2 separate regions of the Homo sapiens genome follow, and region 2 is linked to region 1. Evidence: fine-mapped expression QTL. Tissue or cell type: whole blood. Region 1 holds a variant in brackets; the other region holds the start of a gene. All regions are shown on one strand. Distances are from middle to middle.

Region 1 (8,000 bases):
CCTGCCCTGCCTCCACTCAGAATCCCACTATGTGCTTGGAGCCATGCTGGGTGCTGGGGAGACACACTAACCACTTCCCCATATGCTCACAGCCAGAGAGACACACAGGCCAGCAGCCTGTAAACCACTGGGTGTGGGGTGTCTGGTCCTGGAGTGACAAGGACAGGGAGGAAGAAAGCCAGGCAGGTGGCCCATGAGCCGTGGAGTAGGTGGGGAAGGGGACATCTCCAAGGAGGTGACATCGGAGCAGTCCTCTAAGGAGTTTGGAGTCATTTTCAGTCACTCACAAGCCACAGGAGGGCTTCAGCCTGAAGCTCAGAGGTGATGTGCTTAGATGTCACAGAGCCGGGAGGGGAACAGGCTGGGCTGCAGAGAGGAGGCCAGGCACAGTCACCTCGTGTTGCTGTCCCCCAGGTAGGAGATAAGGGACCAGAGTCAGGGCAGGTGGGAGAAGGGGAGGTTCTTGGTTCAGCTGCTGCTGAGACAGTGACCCTGGGGACAGCCCAAATAAGAGAGAACTTTGCCACCCGCAGGGTCCCAGAGTAGCAGAAGCTTCAGGGCTGATGTGTGCCTGGTGAATCAGCCTGGCCCCAGACCTCCTCTCTCTGCTTGCTTTCCTGTCCACAATCCAGTGCTTCTGTCCTATGGTCCCCAGCGGCTGCTCCTGCATTCACCATCACATCTGCATTCCAGCAGCAGGAGGGAGGTAAAAGACATGAAGGACAGGCCCCACTCCTGTAAAACCCTACACAGAAGCGGCCCACGTCATCCCCCTTTCTGTCCACCCGCCGGAATGTGACGCACGCCTGAGTCGCTGCAAGGGCCCCTGGGGACGGAGTCTCTATTCCAGGCAGGCAAACACTCAGCTTAATTCAGGGTTCTGTTGATTAAAAAAAAAAAGTGGGGTCGGGGGGGCGGGGGAGAGCGGCTATGGAGACAAGTGGCTGTTTTGCCAGAGGGAAAATTCCACATGTGGCTTGGAGGCCAGACCAGAAGGACTCAGATAGGAGTTGGGCGCTTGAGGGAGGAAATGGGGGTACACTTCAGCGGCTCAGGCCAGGGTGTAAGTAGCAGGTATGTGGTGGTACTGTTTTCCGGAATGAAGAGGAAGGGGCGGGCAGAAGGCAGCGAGAGCTTTGTTTGGGGTGTGTCGAATTCAAGATGCCTCTGAGACATGGAAGTGGTGAGGTCAGGGGCCGGGAACCCTATGGTGGTGTTGGCCCTGAGTCCAAGCCAGGCACCACCGGGCACATAGAGGTCTTGAAAGCTCGAATGTGGGGAGGCCAGCAACAGAGGGAACACTACCTGCAAAGGGGCGAGGGCAGGACAAAGGCTGGCAGCACCACACAGGAGCCAGCAGGGAAGGGGCCACAGCCGGGACTCAGAGGAGGCAGCCACGTGCAGAAAGGCACCCATGGGAACATGGCTCCTGGGAGCTGGAGGACCTCAGCAGGCAGGGACTAGCACCCAAGAAGAAAACTCTGAGAAGTCAGGACAGGAGATGGTGTCGTCAGGGGGCTGCTGGAAGGTTTGGTGACCGGAGCAGCAGGTGCCAGAGCTGAAAGCACTGGTTAAACGTGATGGGTAAACACATGTCTATTTCAGCTTCTTTGAATCCCACTAAGGTGACAGTAAAGGCATGAAAAACATGGAAACATGTAAATCAACTAGGGTAAAGTGGTCAGGAGAAAAGAGGAGACCAAAAATATGTTGACAAAGGTTTGGAAGCTGGGAAGCAGGAGGACAGATGGAGACTGGCCTAGGAGACTGGAGAGGGTAGACACCAAGCCCTGCAGGAAGAAGAGCCACCAAGAATGAGGCAGTTCCCAACCCAGGACCCTGACAGGCAGGTCTCACCCCAGCCCATGAAGCCAGATGCTACTGATTCTCAAGCTCAGCTAGAGACAGGTTGAGTCTCCAGAAAAGCTGAGCCTGAGAGGTTCTGAACTTGGAGCCACCAGGAGCAGTTGTGGGTGGGGCAGGAGCTCTCGTGATGAAAACAACAGGGATTCAGTAAATGCATTCAAGCTAAAAAGGAAGACCTCCTCCCCCACTTCCCTCATCAACTCCCAGAATGCCCGGTGGGGCACACCATTGTTTTCAGAACACCAGCAATAAAGCAGACACTCCACATTTCCAGAGAGAAAAAGTAAGTCACACACAAGAGAATAGAAAATCAAAACGGTATCCAATTTCTTAACAGCAATTCAGAAAGCTAGCACATAGTAGAGAAATGCCTTCAAACATCTGAGGGAAAAAATGATTTCCCATCCAGAATTCTATACCTAGTCAAACTCTCAGGTATGAGAATAGAATAAAGACATTTCCAAACATGCACAGTCAAAAATTGTATCTACCACATGCCTTTTCTCAGAAAGTTACTTGAGGACGTGCTCTAGCAAAATGAGAGGAAAAAACAAAGAAAGAGAAACACAATTCAAGAACCAGGGAGACTCCAACACCAAAAACAAAAGGCCAAGAGAATTTTCAACATGAGTGAAAGAAGTTCTAGCATTACAGCTGCTCAGCATGCCTACAGTGCAAACAGTCCTGCTAAGACTCCAGGAAGAAATCCCAGAAGAAAAAAAAAATGAAGGTGATAGACTGCCAGTATTCTCAATAGGATGAAAGAAGTTTTACAATTCTTACAGAAAGTTCAAGAATGAATTAGTGACAGATGCAGTAAAAAACAAGCAAAACCTAAGGCCATTTGTAACCCAAGGGAAAACAAGAAGATGTAATCATAACAGACCACAGGACACAGCTAAAAACAGTGATTACATAGTGACATAAAGAGTTATATACTGTTTGTGTAAAATGCAAACAGTAAGTACTTATTTAGCCTAGAATTCTAATTTAACTGTGTTGGAAAGATAAGGGAGTGGGGAGGGCAGGGGCATGAGAACAAAATCTTGATCACTTCTCTTCCATGTTAGGCAGTCACTAGATAATGTCTAAAGTGACAAAATTTCAAGGAACAGCAATGTAAATGTGTAGTTTGGAAATGCCAAGGTAAAGCCAAGAGATAGTCGGTAGGGTTGAAGGGCTGCCTCTGGGAACAGAAATTAGAGATAGAAGATCTAGCGCCCAGGGAAGGCTGTTTAAAGATGGGAGAGCTTCACGGGTTTTCTCACTAAGGGTAAGAAAATTTAAGAAGGAAGTGATGGTGCCAGAGAATAGGGAATTCTGCCAATACCCTGGTGGGGAGGGGGAGGGGGAGGGGGAGGAGGATGAGAAGGAAGGAGGAGGGAGGAGGAAGGAAGAGGGAGGAGGAAGGAGGAGGAAGGAGGAGGAAGGAGGAGGGAGGAGGAAGGAGGAGGGAGGAGGGAGGAAGAGAGAGAAGGAAGAGATTGGCCAAGGAGCTCTGAGAGGGGAAGGTGGGTGCATGCCACCCTGGCTGGGAACAGCAGGTGTGTGGTGAAGGGGAAAGACCAGCAGGCCCTTTACACCGTGGGCACAGGCTCAGGACTGGCTGGGTGCTACGCAGGAGCCCTCTGACTAGCTGGGGCTGGGGCTGTGCAGGATAAGGCCAGTGAGAGAAGAGGACTCACTGGTGGGTGCCTCCTCCCCACCTTTAGCAAGGGTTGACAGAGGGATCTGGGCTCTTCCCTGGGCAGGCATCCCAGAGCTATGACCTGAATGATATCTTAGATGATCTCCAAGGCCCCGGGATCTAAGTCCCTGTTAAGTCCCCTGTTAAAGGACCTAGGTCCTCCCAATGGCCTGCAAACCACACCCAGTCTAGTCAGCATGTATCCCCACACCCCAGTCCCAGTGTCCCAAGAACCTCTTCCTCCAGCCCCGGGAGCAGGAAGGGCGGGCTGGGAGCTGCAGGATGGGGCCTGAATCTCTCATCAACTCACAGGGTCAGCCTGGGCCAGGCAGGCTGGGGGCCAGCCCAGGACCTCCTTCCTGGGTGGAGACCTTCCCACCCTTCCACTCACCTTCCGAGCATTGTGGGCCTTCCCAGGAACCCCCACATCTCCGTGGCCCTCAGACCTCTGACCTCCCAAGGGCACCCCACGTGTGTGCCCTCCAGCACCCTGGCCACAGAGCCACACACCTGGGCCTTCCCCTCTCCCCATCATCAGGTAACCCAGCACAGGCTGGCCCAACCCCTCTCTAGGCCTCAGCTTTCCTGTCAGGAAAATGCAGGGTTAGGAGCTGACCAGGGAGTCTTTGAAACCGCAAGGGTACCCTTGGGAGACCCCGTGCAGGTCTTGTCAAGGCAGGACAGGGAAGTGGTGATGATGAGAGGCAGCTGGTCTGGGTGCTCAGCCCCACCCCAGCACCCGCCCAATGGGCCCCCTGAGGGAAGCTGCCCATGCTCTCTGCGCCCCATTTTCTGGCCTCTGGCATGCAGAGGGCAGCCCTGCCTGCTTCCCAGTATGGCTGTGAAGCCAAAGGCGGCGATCAATGGGATGTTCTCAGAATGACAGGTGCTCTGTGATCAGCAGCAGCTGCTACAGGGATGGCCATCGGGTGCAGGGCAGGATGTCCCTGAGGAGGCACCTCAGCAGACGTGATGGGTGCCTGTGCCCACAGTTGGGCCATGAGAAGAAGTATGTGGCCCGGCCTGCCCTACACCATCAGGGGGTGCTTGGACCAGTGGCGGCTGGAAATAACCCATGAACAGGGGAGAGAAGGGGTGAATGCCTTGTAGGCCTGGAACACTGTGGGGCTGTCGAAGGTGCTTCTGCCTCCAGGAAGCCCTCCCTGACTGTGGAGACACAAGAAGCTCTCCAGGTCTCTGGGTCCCTCTGGTACTCTGTGCCCTGAACCA[C/G]CACCCTTAGGCCCAGATCTATTCCTGATCCTTCTCTAGACTTCAGTCAGTTTCCTCTTGATGTCCTGGATGGCCACAACCATAGTGTCCCCTCCGCTCCTCTCTCCCCCGCTTCCTTCCACATTGCCCCTCCTCCCCTTTCCCCTTCCCCACCACTGCTCCCCTCCTTCCTCCAGCACCCTTCTCCCCGCTGCCCTCCCCTCCCCTCCCCGCTGCCCTCCTCTGCCTCTCTCCGTTGCCCCCTCCTCCCTCCCCCACCAGAGCCCTGGAAGGCTAGGTACAGCGAGGAAGTGGCCACTCCATGACCCCCAGTGATTTCACTTCTCTGAGCCTCAAGAGTCTCACCTGTCCAGGGTCCATGGGATATGCCTGACTCAGCCCCTGGCACATGGTCTTGCAGTGGCCTGAGCTGGACATGCCCCTGGTAGGAAGCTGGAAAGGAGGCCCTGCCCGTGTACCAGGAGCCTCTGCTCCAGGGGGGTGGCCTGAGGCCCAGGCAGACCTCCACCTCCAGGCAGCCCTGCAGGTGGACAGCTGGGCCTCAGGCTTAGGACCTGGGACAACTGCCTAGACTACCCCCAGCCTTCCTGACAGGTGATAGCTTCATTGTCCCCAGGACACACACCAGCCCGGTCCCCACCCTACCCTTTCCCAGCACCCCTGAGGGAAGGCCTGGCCCCTCAGGCACAGTGGGGGTTGCCCGGCATCTTGGCAGATGGGCAGCGTTAGAGAAGCCTTGGACCTGGCCCTGCAAATGGAGGTACCAGAGGGCTGAACTAGATGAGGGACTTGAAGGCTCAGATGCCTGTGCGGGACCTGGCAGGGTGGGGGCTTCCGGGCTGGGAGACTAGGACAGGGTGCCTGTGTCCCCTCCTGGGAGTGGGGCCGTCAGAGCTCCGACCGCACAGGGTCATGGGGAGCAAGAGGAACCAGGATACCCACAAGCTGCTCGCTCAGACGGGCTCTGCGACTCCACAACTCACCTTCCCCTACTGCAAGATCAGGGAGATGGGACGCAGTCCCCGCCCATGCCCAGGGCCTTGGCAGGGTCAGGAGAGCCAGTGCAGGCAAAGCGCCAAGCACCCTGCTGCCTGGGAGACCACAGTTGCAGCAGGAAGCCCTCCTCAGGTCTGCCCGCCTCCCCGGAGCATGTTCCCTCTGTAGCTCCCGGTAGGGCCTGTGTGGAGAAGGTTGCTGATGGCATCACTGAGCGGCCCAGCTGTGGGGTGAAAGGCAAGGCTGGGGCTGATGCTCCCCAAGGCAGGAGGAGACCATGGTCTGGCTGGGGCTGCCCCAGGTGACAACTGTAGGGTGTGGGGAAGGTGGCTGCCACCGCCGTGGTCCACAGGGCCTGGCCAGGGCTCCATGGGGCAGAAGCCATGCCCAGCTCAGGGGGCTTCACTCCACTCTCCCACTTTGACCTGGTCCCTCCCCTCTCCCCCAGAGTGACCTGGACACTAGCCTCCTCCCAGTGGGAGACAGATGTGGGCAATGCAGCTGCTGTTCCCTGCTCAGGGCAGGCTGGTGCCCAAGGACTGCCCACCAGACCAGGGGATAAGAGGTTGGCAGCATCGTCCATGGTTATCCCACAGCTAGGAGGCTGTGGGTGTGGGAGAACATGCTGGGTAGGGGTGCCTGTGTGCCTCTGGAGTCGAGGCAATTAGAGGCCCTGTGGAAGCCCCTGCACGCAAGGGGCCCACGCGCCAGGGCAGAGGACATAGCCCCTTCTTGCTTCCCTGAGGGACGGGAGGCCTGTGGACTTCTGGACACAATGGCAGAGTCAGGGCAGCCAAGCCGGGCCAGTGCCCTGGAGCCGAGTCCTCCCCCCACCTGCCCACATGCCCCACCCCTCTCCAAGCTTCTCCCCTCATAGGATCCCAGAGCCCCTTGGGACCTCTGTGAAGACTGCATAGATGTGAGGGAGTCTCAGCCTTAGGGTGGGCACCTGGGCGCAGCTGTCAGGCCCCAAGTCAGCCCCAGGCACGTGGACCTGGGAGCCAGCCTCAAGGGCAGGGGTCCCCGAGCATCCCCACTGCTGCCCCGCCAGCAACCGTGTCACTGGGAGGCAAGAGGCTGGGTTCCTGGGGTGGGCAGGCTTCCCCGCTTCACTCCATTTGCAGCCCCTGTCTTGCAGAGGCAAAATGGAGGTTCAGAGAGGTGAGCAAACACCAGGTCCCATGTTTGCACCTGGCTGTGACCGTGCAGTCCACTGGGCCCAGCAGCAGGAACTGGGGCAAGTGCCCCGAGACGGGACCGAGACAACAGTGGGGAAGGTGGGACAGGCAGCTGGGGGAAGGCCAGAGTGTCCAGCACCAGCGCCAGGGGCCGTTCCGACAGGCTGAGGAGCGGCGGGGAGCGGGGCTTGCCAAATATGTCCAGATGGGGCTGGAGCCCCAGCAACTTCCTGCCCTCCCAGCCTGCTCCCCCACCTCCTCACCCCCTTCCCAGGCTGTCAGCAGGGGCTGGGGGGCAGCAGAACCCCACTTAGCCACAAGGAGTGCAGCCAGGGGCTGGCTCCCGGGAGGACATGGGCAGAGGCTTAGGTCCCCTTACACACACACACTGCTGCATTCGTGCAGGATGGGCTCAGCGCCTGCTGTGCCTGGCGTGGCTGTGTGCATGGCATGGTGGTGGCATGGTGGGAGTGGTGTGGCACATGGTGTGGCACATGGCATGGCTGGGGCTGGGGCTGGGTTGTGTAGCATGTGGAGTGGCAAGGTGCGTGACATGGTGTATGGCATGGTAGTGTGCCCCTCGAGCCATGTGTCCAGGTGGGGCAGATCATGGAGGGCGCCCAGGTGCGGTGCTGAGGCTGAGCATGCACTGGCTGGGGAGGGTGGGCAGAGCAGGAGGAAATCCCTTGTTCTCCGGAGCTGGAGAGCCAGAAAGAGCCCTGCAGCCTGGGCCTCATCATCACACCTCGCCCTCAAGGCCTCCAGGCACAGCATCCACTGCCAGCCTCTGCTCCTGCCTCTGAGGGTCTGTCTCCAAGGTCTTTTGGGGGCTGCCCCAGCTCCCCCAACACAGACAGCACCAGAGCTGGGCCCACCTGTGAGGTGCTGAGTTCCCCATCTCAGAGACTGTGCGAGCAGAGGCAGGGAGGCGCTTGATGTCGGATGGAGAAAGGACAGGGGAGGGGTGTGGGGCTCAGGGCCCCGCCAGGTGAAGGAACAAGCTTGGAAGGGTGTCCTTATGTCTGAGAGTTGGGGAGACACCC
Region 2 (8,000 bases), 72 kb after region 1:
AGGGTGGGAGCTCTAAACAGGACATGAGTGTCAATGACACCCTCACGTCCAGCTCAGACCACATGCCGCAAACTGCACACTGCACACTCTGCCCTCTCTGCTGGCCCACAGGCCCCTCCCGTGGATGGACCTGCAGGGTTGCCTCCCCTCATGTCGCCCCCAGCCGCACCTGAAGGCCCCCTCAGTTGGCCCTCTCAGCCCAGGCCCCAACCAGCAGGAAGCCTGTCAGGCCTCCTTCCAGGGAGGTTCCAAACCTGCCCCTCAAATCCCCCCATGCCCCATCCAAGTCCACACCACCTCTCATCTGGACCACAGCAGAGACCTCCTGCACTGCCCCTCCCCTCAACCCCTCATCAGCACATCAGCCAGAGGCTCCTTGGAGAACAGAAGGGGCTCAGAACCCTGCAGCGGCGTCCACTGCACACACAGGAAGAACTCAAGTGCTCATAGGCAGTGAGTCATTTCCTTAGGCATTGTGGTGACCCGGGATCATGTGCCTCCCCGAAGCCTGCACATGCACTCTAATGATGCAAGCTACCACCAGGCGGTCAGCTTTGCCAGCTGACGTCCCAAACAGCTGGCATGGGGCATGCACACAGTAGGTGCTTAATAAATGTGTGTCGGGTTAAGATAGGCCCAAAGCCATTTCAAATGTCCAGGCAGTGGTGTAGGCAGGGGTCAGCTCTGAAGCTGGCCTCCTCTCATTCGGGAGACCCCTCAGAGGTCCCAGCCTCCAGGATGCAGTGTTCAGAGCAATACTTCTCAGTGCACGTCTGGCTGTGTCCCTGCCCAGCGCTCCCAGGGTCACCCCTCTCTCTAGACTCACTTTCTGCCCCGTCACCCCACTGTACACCCTTGGTCCCAGCCCCTTCCAGTGGCTCAGCTTCCTGAACACTCCAAGCCTGGGCTCACCTCTAAGCCGTTATCTATGCTATTCTCTCAGCCAGGATGCCCTTCCCATACCCAAACAATCCGTGCTCACCTTTAAGACTGGCTGAGGCATCACCTCCTCTGAGAAGCCACCTCTCCCAAACCTGAGCCCAGATGAGCCAAAGCCCTTCCTTCCTCCAGTCAGCCTGGATCCTCTCATCCGGCAGAACTGTCGCCTTGCTTCTCTGAAGCGGTGAATGCCCTGGGGCTGGGGACGCACAGGCTCGCTGGCCCACAACCAAAGCCGCTTCCTCTGGAGGAGGAAGTCCAGGGGTGCCAGGGTTCCACTTGCTTTCTTCTTCACCCAGCCTAAAGGGCAATTTTCCCACATTCCCTCAGAACCAGGAAGTTCCCCCATTCACACTGAGCCTGTTCATGACAAAAAAAAAGGTCTCTCCGATTTCCTCTGCTCAACCAGTTCCCTGGCTACCTGAGGCCCTGCTTCACCTGGAGGAAGACAGTGGTAAGTTTCCAGCATCTCCACCACACCTCAGCGCCAGAGGACCCTCAGCCTCCCTCGCACACCTCTGGGCAGTTTGGTAACTCATCCCATCTCCTCCTGCCGCTTCATCCTCTAAGCCCTCCCCAGGGAACCCAGGAGGCGTCTGGAACCTGTTGGGGACAGTCCCTCACACCTGCCCCATTGAGTAAGGGTTCATGTGGATGCCCATCCTCCCCCAGGAGTCCCAAATCTAAGACACTCTGAGACTCCTGTCACCCACCCCCACCTTACACAGCCGGCCTTTCTGTGCAGTCCTTCCAGGAAACTCTGGCTGGACCTGGGCTCTCGGCTTGACTGCACTCTCCCCAAGTCCCCAGGGCGGCCAGTGGTGACTATTCTTGAAAACGAGCTTGGCAGAGGATCTGGGGACACGCACTCCAGATGCAAACACGTTTGCACTCTTTGGGCTGGAATCCCCTCGAGCGGTACACTGCACCCGTGGGCTTGCTAAGAAACCACCTCACAGAGGGCAGATTGATTGGACAAAAGGCATTTGGTCCCCAAATTGATTGACGTGTGTGAATGGGAGTTTTCAGAACAAAGACCCAAAGATATGGGGGAAACAGGCTGGGCGCGGTGGCTCACGCCTGTAATCCCAGCACTTTGGGAGGCCGAGGGGGGGCGGATCACGAGGTCAGGAGATCGAGACCATCCTGGCTAACACGGTGAAACTCCGTCTCTACTAAAAATACAAAAAAATTAGCGGGGGCTGTGGCGGGCGCCTGTAGTCCCAGCTACTCGGGAGGCTGAGGCAGGAGAATGGCGTGAACCCGGGAGGCGGAGCTTGCAGCGAGCCGAGATCGCGCCACTGCACTTCAGCCTGGGTGACAGAGCAAGACTCCGTCTCAAAAAAAAAAAAAAAAAAAAAAAAAGATATGGGGGAAATTGCCATTTCTGATGCTTAGGCTCAACAAAGTATGGACATCCATGCGGGAACACAGATGAACCAAGGGACCTGCACTAATGCTCCTGGACCGCAAGGGGAAGCGCAGCGAGGGCTGTTGGTCTAGATTTCTTGAACTTTCTGAGCAGCATTCCTTCCTTCTGGGCATGGAGCAGGACCCTCCTGGAATGGGGTCTTATGCCCTACAGTCAAACAAGAGAGGTCAGATAATTTATGGCCAGCTTCTAAACACAAAGGTGGAGGGAAAGTTAGAGCAATATTTTTAGGTTTGATGTCTGGCTGTGTGGAAAGGCGGGGTTCTGATTTCTATGACCTGCCCTGGGGAAAATGGATTCCAGTTTCTAAGGCCAGCTTCGGGGAAAATGGCACTGAGAGACAGGAGAGCAAGAGAAGGTCAGAGAAACACTTTTTCTTCCGAAGCTGCTTCTGAGGCCTTCATTTTGGGGTATTGTTTTCTGATGCCCAACATATCTGAGCTGCTGAACGAAGGGTAGCTGCTGAACCACTCCCACGGTGACTTGGAATGGCTTAGCCAGCCGGCCTTGGGCCACCTGGCTCTGGCCCCCCTGCCCACCAGGACTTTGGCCGGCTCTCGCTCGCCTCTGCGATGTCCGTCCCACCCTGTCTCACCCCTGCAGTTTTCTGCTCTGTGGAGCGATGATTGACACATGGCAGGGGGACACTGGTTTTGACATTTGAGCCTGTGCCCAGCCCTTGCCTGGGGAGGAGGTGGGGCAGGAGTCCTGAATGAGCATCTCCCTACTTAGTGACAGTCAGGGGCACGGAGAATGGTGCCCAGGCCAAGGGCAGGGCTTGGGCCAAGTGTGCGCAGCGTGGGGTGTGTGTGCTCCAGCGGCTCCTGCTGCGGAGGGCGGCATGAGGCTTGTTTACCTGTGTGCTGGCATCTCTGGTGGCCCCTGCAAGGGTGGGGAAGTGGCAGGCAGGGTGAAATGGGGAAAAGTGGGCTCTCAACTGCTCCTAGCAGCCTCCGGGTCTGGGGAGGGAAGTGAGGAGGGGCCCAGAGCTGTCTCCTGGTCACTCTTCTGGGGCTCTGTGCAGACCTTTGGCAGGGCCAGGCTACACCACACCCTCTACAACCTCCCCTGACTTCTTCCCCTAACCCCTCACCACCATTCCTCCGCTTTTCTCTCCCCGCCCCTGCCTCCCCTCCATTCTCTCCTTCCCTCCACCTCCCGGTCCCATCCCCTGCCCACACTGCCCCTCCTCAGGCCCAAAGTGGACACCGGTGCTGCCTGAGGGTCAGAGTGTCCACCTCCAGCAGCCCGGGCACCGGGCAGGATTCAAGCTGGAGGGGGCTGGGGCGGGCGAAGCCGGGCACGGGGCGAGCCCGCTGGTGGGCGGGGCAGGGGCGGGTCCTTCGAGGGGAGGGGCGGGCTCGGCCAGTGAGAGCGCAGAAACCGTGGCACGGGCGCTCCCGGAACTGGCGATTGCAAAGCGCGAGGGCTGGAACTCAGACCCAGAGGGGCGGTCCCTGTTGCAAGTCATCTCCCGAAAGGGCGGGGCCGGGGCTCATCCCGGAAGGACCGGTGTCTAGGTCACCCTGGAGCGCTCACCCCACCGGCACCCGTGCCCAAGCCCGCCCCTGCAAAGGCAGGTACTCGAGCACACTCCGGAGAGGGCGGCCTCTGAGCCCCGAACCCCGAACTCCGGCGCAGCGTCGCACCTCTGCCCAATGAGGTGCCCCTGACGTGCCTGCTGCGGCTGCCCTGCTCCCCCCAGCCTCCCTGCATCCCGGGATGGGGGAGGGCGCCAGGCGCAGCTCCCGGACCCTCAGGGGTCTCCCCGCCCTACCCCACCAGCCTGGGTTCGGTACCTCGGGGCTCAGATGTGCAGTCAGCTGTTAATGTGGCAAAATTTGGGGAAGTCCTCTGCAGCCGCAAAATCCAGTTCCCACCAGTTGGAGGCCGGGCGGGGAAGGGTGGGGACAGACAGCACTCCGCTGTGGGAGGTAAGGCAGAGCTACTGGGGAGCCTGGAAGGCTGAGCTATGTCTCCCCTACGCAAGACCATTCCAGAAGCCCCTTGGAGCTCTGGCTGCTGGCCACAGGGGAAGGTAGACCTTCCCTGAGAGCTGCACTGTGTTGGGGACAGGGCCACTGTGGGCCTACGGAGGGCCTCCAGGCACAGGGACCCACATCAGCCCTCTGGCCACAGAAGGCGCTGATGATTTGAGGTGGACTCAGCCACCACTCCGAGCCTCTGCCTCCCTCTAAAAGTGGGGCATGGCACATTCCTGTGTCAGGCAACCAGGCACTGAGCCTGGCCCACCTGCAGGGGTCGGGGGGAGCAGCTTGTCCCTGTCTCCCCTCCCCGGGAGGCTGTGTGCCTGGAGACCAGAGCTGTCAAAAGTGGAGGAGGGGGACCCCCTGATGTGTCCTCTAAGGTCCAGGTAGCAGGAGAGCTCCACTGGGGAGGGGGTCCTGCAGTGCTGTCCTCTCTTGCAGGCAAGGCCAGGCGGGTGCTGCCTGGGACCCAGTGACTCAGCACCCCTGCCCGGATCAACTGGACTTTTGCCCCCTGCTCCGCCAGCCTCCTGCTTGGATCTCTCCTGGGTCTCCCTGCTGCGCCTGTCCAGGATGCAGGGAGCTCGGGCTCCCAGGGACCAGGGCCGGTCCCCCGGCAGGATGAGCGCTCTAGGCCGGTCCTCGGTCATCTTGCTTACCTACGTGCTGGCCGCCACAGAACTTACCTGCCTCTTCATGCAGTTCTCCATCGTGCCAGTGAGTAACACACCCCAGCCCCTGCAGCCCCAGCCAGGGCTGAACCGCTGTTCCTCCTGCCCTCCATCTGGGCCGTCGCAGAGAGTGGGGGTGGGGGTTTCATGCTGCCAGGGCCCCTCCCAGTTGGGACTCATGCCACGCTTAAGCTGAGTAAGTTAAGGACTCTGCCTCTGGACCCCCGTCAGCACATCCTGTGCTCCAGCTTCAGTGCCAGCCCCGGGAGAAGCCATGGGGAGCCACCCCACTTCCCTCCTGGGGGCAGCACCTCCTCAAACCTTCCTAGCGCTGTTCCTCCTGCCTCTCACCCGGCAGCCTTTGCCCTCTGGAGTCCCTGCCCCAAGGGCTGTTCAATCCGGTGTGGCTCTGGGCGGATCACCCCTCAGAGAGGCTCTCCTTGCACCTGCCCGCAGCTTCTATCTCTCCCCTCCATCTTCTTGGGTCCTTGTTGTCCACTAAATGATCTGTGGCGGCAAATTGATCTCAAGCTTTTTCTTGCAAGAGATAGAATGCTGTCTTATTTTATTATCTCTGTTGCCAAATGCGGAAACATTTCATTGGCAAATTCATGTTAGTTTAGTGTATCATTCAGTAGTCTATACCACAGTGTGTGGCTCTGGAAGCTGTAATAGTAATGATTAAATTATATTCACCAAGTCTGGAGAGGCTTGGGAACAAAGTCTCACATCACCAAGAAGCTCAGGCAGAGTCAGGGCCAACCTCGGCCCTTCCTGTGTTTGCTTCTGGGAAGCCCGGCGTGCGTGGGCTCAGACAGCTGCCCTCCTCCTCTCAGCCCTCAGAGCCTGGACCTGGGCATCTAGGCGGGAGTGGGGATGGGCCTTTGGCACCATTCCGGGCCTGGCAGAGGCTCCCAGCCCGAGGGTGAGCCTAAGGATCCCTCCCCGCCGTGCCTCAGGCGCCCCGCCCACTCCTGCTAAATGGCTGGGGCCAAGCCCTGAATCTCCTCCCTACCCGTGGGGAAGGCTGGGCAGGAGCCTTGCTTTTCTCATCATAAAATGGGTAATAACAGTCCCTCCCTGTAGGATTGGTGCGGGGAAGAGTGAATGAGAAGTCAGAACCCTTCCCACAGCTGGGCACAGAGCACAGGTGGAGTGGCTTCAGCCACCCATCGACTCTCATGGGGAGTAACTCCGTGCTGAGTGCCCAGGAGCTGACCCTGATGTCAGAACCTGAAATATTGCAGAGTGTAAAAATCCTCAACAGCCCACTCCCTCGGAGCTGGGGGTCCACACGCACAGGGGCTGCAGTGGGAAGGGGGCGAGGTCTTCCTCATAGAGAAGGCAACCTTGGAGCAGGGCTGGAAGGAAGCAGGAGAGGCCCCGGGGCAGTGGAGAGAGCAGAGTGGCTAGAGTGGACCGGTTGAGGCCAGAATGGGACCACACCCCACCTGCTGCTCAAAGAACTCCGGGCTGGTGATGGCTGTGGAGGAGGTGAGAGGTGGCTGGATTTTGCATGTGTTGTCAATGGACTGTAGTGGGTGTGAGAGAAAGCAGGGCTCAGGGAGCACTGAAGATCTGGGCCTGAGCCCATAAGGAAGGAGGCATGGACAGGAGGAGAGGGAAAGATGGGAGCCCAGTTGGGGACGGGTTGAGTTTGAGACGATTTTCGACCCCAGTGGAGAGCCGAAGGGAGCTGGACACAAGGCAGTTCAGCACAGAGGCTCTGGGGCCCTGCAGCATGGAGACGGTCATGGGCTGGGCTCCCCCAGAGGGCAGGGAGGCTGGAGGTCGGATGAGCTGGGGGAACTGGCAGTGGTGATGGAGGAGGGGCAAAGGACCCAGCACAGCCCAGAGCAGCAGACCATCGTGGAGGAGGGAAGAAGCCACGAAGGCAACTGTCACTCCAGTGGGAGGCCTGCCAAAGCGGACCACTGGAGGCAGCAGTGTGGGGTCAATGGGGACCTCAGGGAGAGGGGAGACAGCAGGAGGTTTTTTGTCCTTGCAATAGTTTGCTCAGAATGAAGGTTTCCAGCTTCATCCATGTACAAAGCACATGAACTCATCCTTTTTTATGGCTGCATAGTATTCCATGGTTTATATGTGCCACATTTTCTTAATCCAGTCTGTCATTGATGGACATTTGGGTTGGTTCCAAGTCTTTGCTATTGTAAACAGTGCCGCGATAAAAATACGTGTGCATGTGTCTTTATAGTATAGTCCCCTGGGGCCTGCTCCGAGGGCTGGGAGAGAAGGAAAGAGATGGAAAGAGAGGAGGCTGCAAGGTGAGGCAGCTGCTCAGAGCTCCGCCCTCAAATATGTGGGAGTAGCTGTAGGGGAGGGTCAAGAGAACGCAAGAGAAGTAACAGGATGTGAGCATGCTCCATTGCCACCCCCTCAAAAGGGGATTGTGCAGAGAAACGGGGAGAGAGGAGCACTGGGAGCTTGGTCCAGTGGGTGCCCCCACAGAAGGGGACTGTGCAGAGAAACGGAGAGAGGAACATTGGGAGCCCTGCCCTTGAGGAGGCAAAAGGTTGGGATGTGACGCAGGCAGGGAGGATGACTTGGGTAGGCGAGGACAGGTGGGCAGGCTTGGGGATGAGAAACTCAGCATCCTCTATGAACAGACACTTCTCAAAAGAAGACCTTTATGCAGCCAACAGACACATGAGAAAATGCTCATCATCACTGGTCATCAGAGAAATGCAAGTCAAAACCACAATGAGATACCATCTCACACCAGTTAGAATGGCGATCATGAAAAAGTCAGGAAACAACAGATGCTGGAGAGGACGTGGAGAAATAGGAACACTTTTACACTGTTGGTGGGACTGTAAACTAGTTCAACCATTGTGGAAGACATGTGGCGATTCTTCAAGGATCTAGAACTAGAAATACCATTTGACCCAGCGATCCCATTACTGGGTATATACCCAAAGGATTATAAATCATGCTACTATAAAGACACAT

What was found. PIP is the estimated chance that this variant, and not a neighbour inherited with it, causes the effect.
Region 2: it holds the start of SLC67A1, and the variant in region 1 is fine-mapped to the expression of SLC67A1 in whole blood (INTERVAL, PIP 0.98).

Annotation. Positions count from the first base shown.
Region 1 is chr11:2,826,734-2,834,733 of GRCh38, forward strand. All of the region lies in intron 15 of KCNQ1 (potassium voltage-gated channel subfamily Q member 1), which reads left to right. Among named protein-coding and RNA genes, the nearest start is that of KCNQ1-AS1, 31 kb to the right of the region's middle. RefSeq lists an enhancer at 832-1,732. The variant C/G (reference allele first, on the strand shown) is at 4,784.
Region 2 is chr11:2,898,414-2,906,413 of GRCh38, forward strand. SLC67A1 (solute carrier family 67 member 1) reads left to right here and starts at 3,865. Exons shown (of 11, transcript NM_002555.6): 1 at 3,865-3,951; 2 at 4,801-5,076. The coding sequence starts at 4,933. It overlaps SLC67A1-AS (SLC67A1 antisense RNA), which reads right to left and starts at 5,162. Exons shown (of 3, transcript NR_169305.1): 1 at 5,046-5,162; 2 at 4,171-4,296. RefSeq lists a silencer at 3,997-4,126 and an enhancer at 5,052-5,553.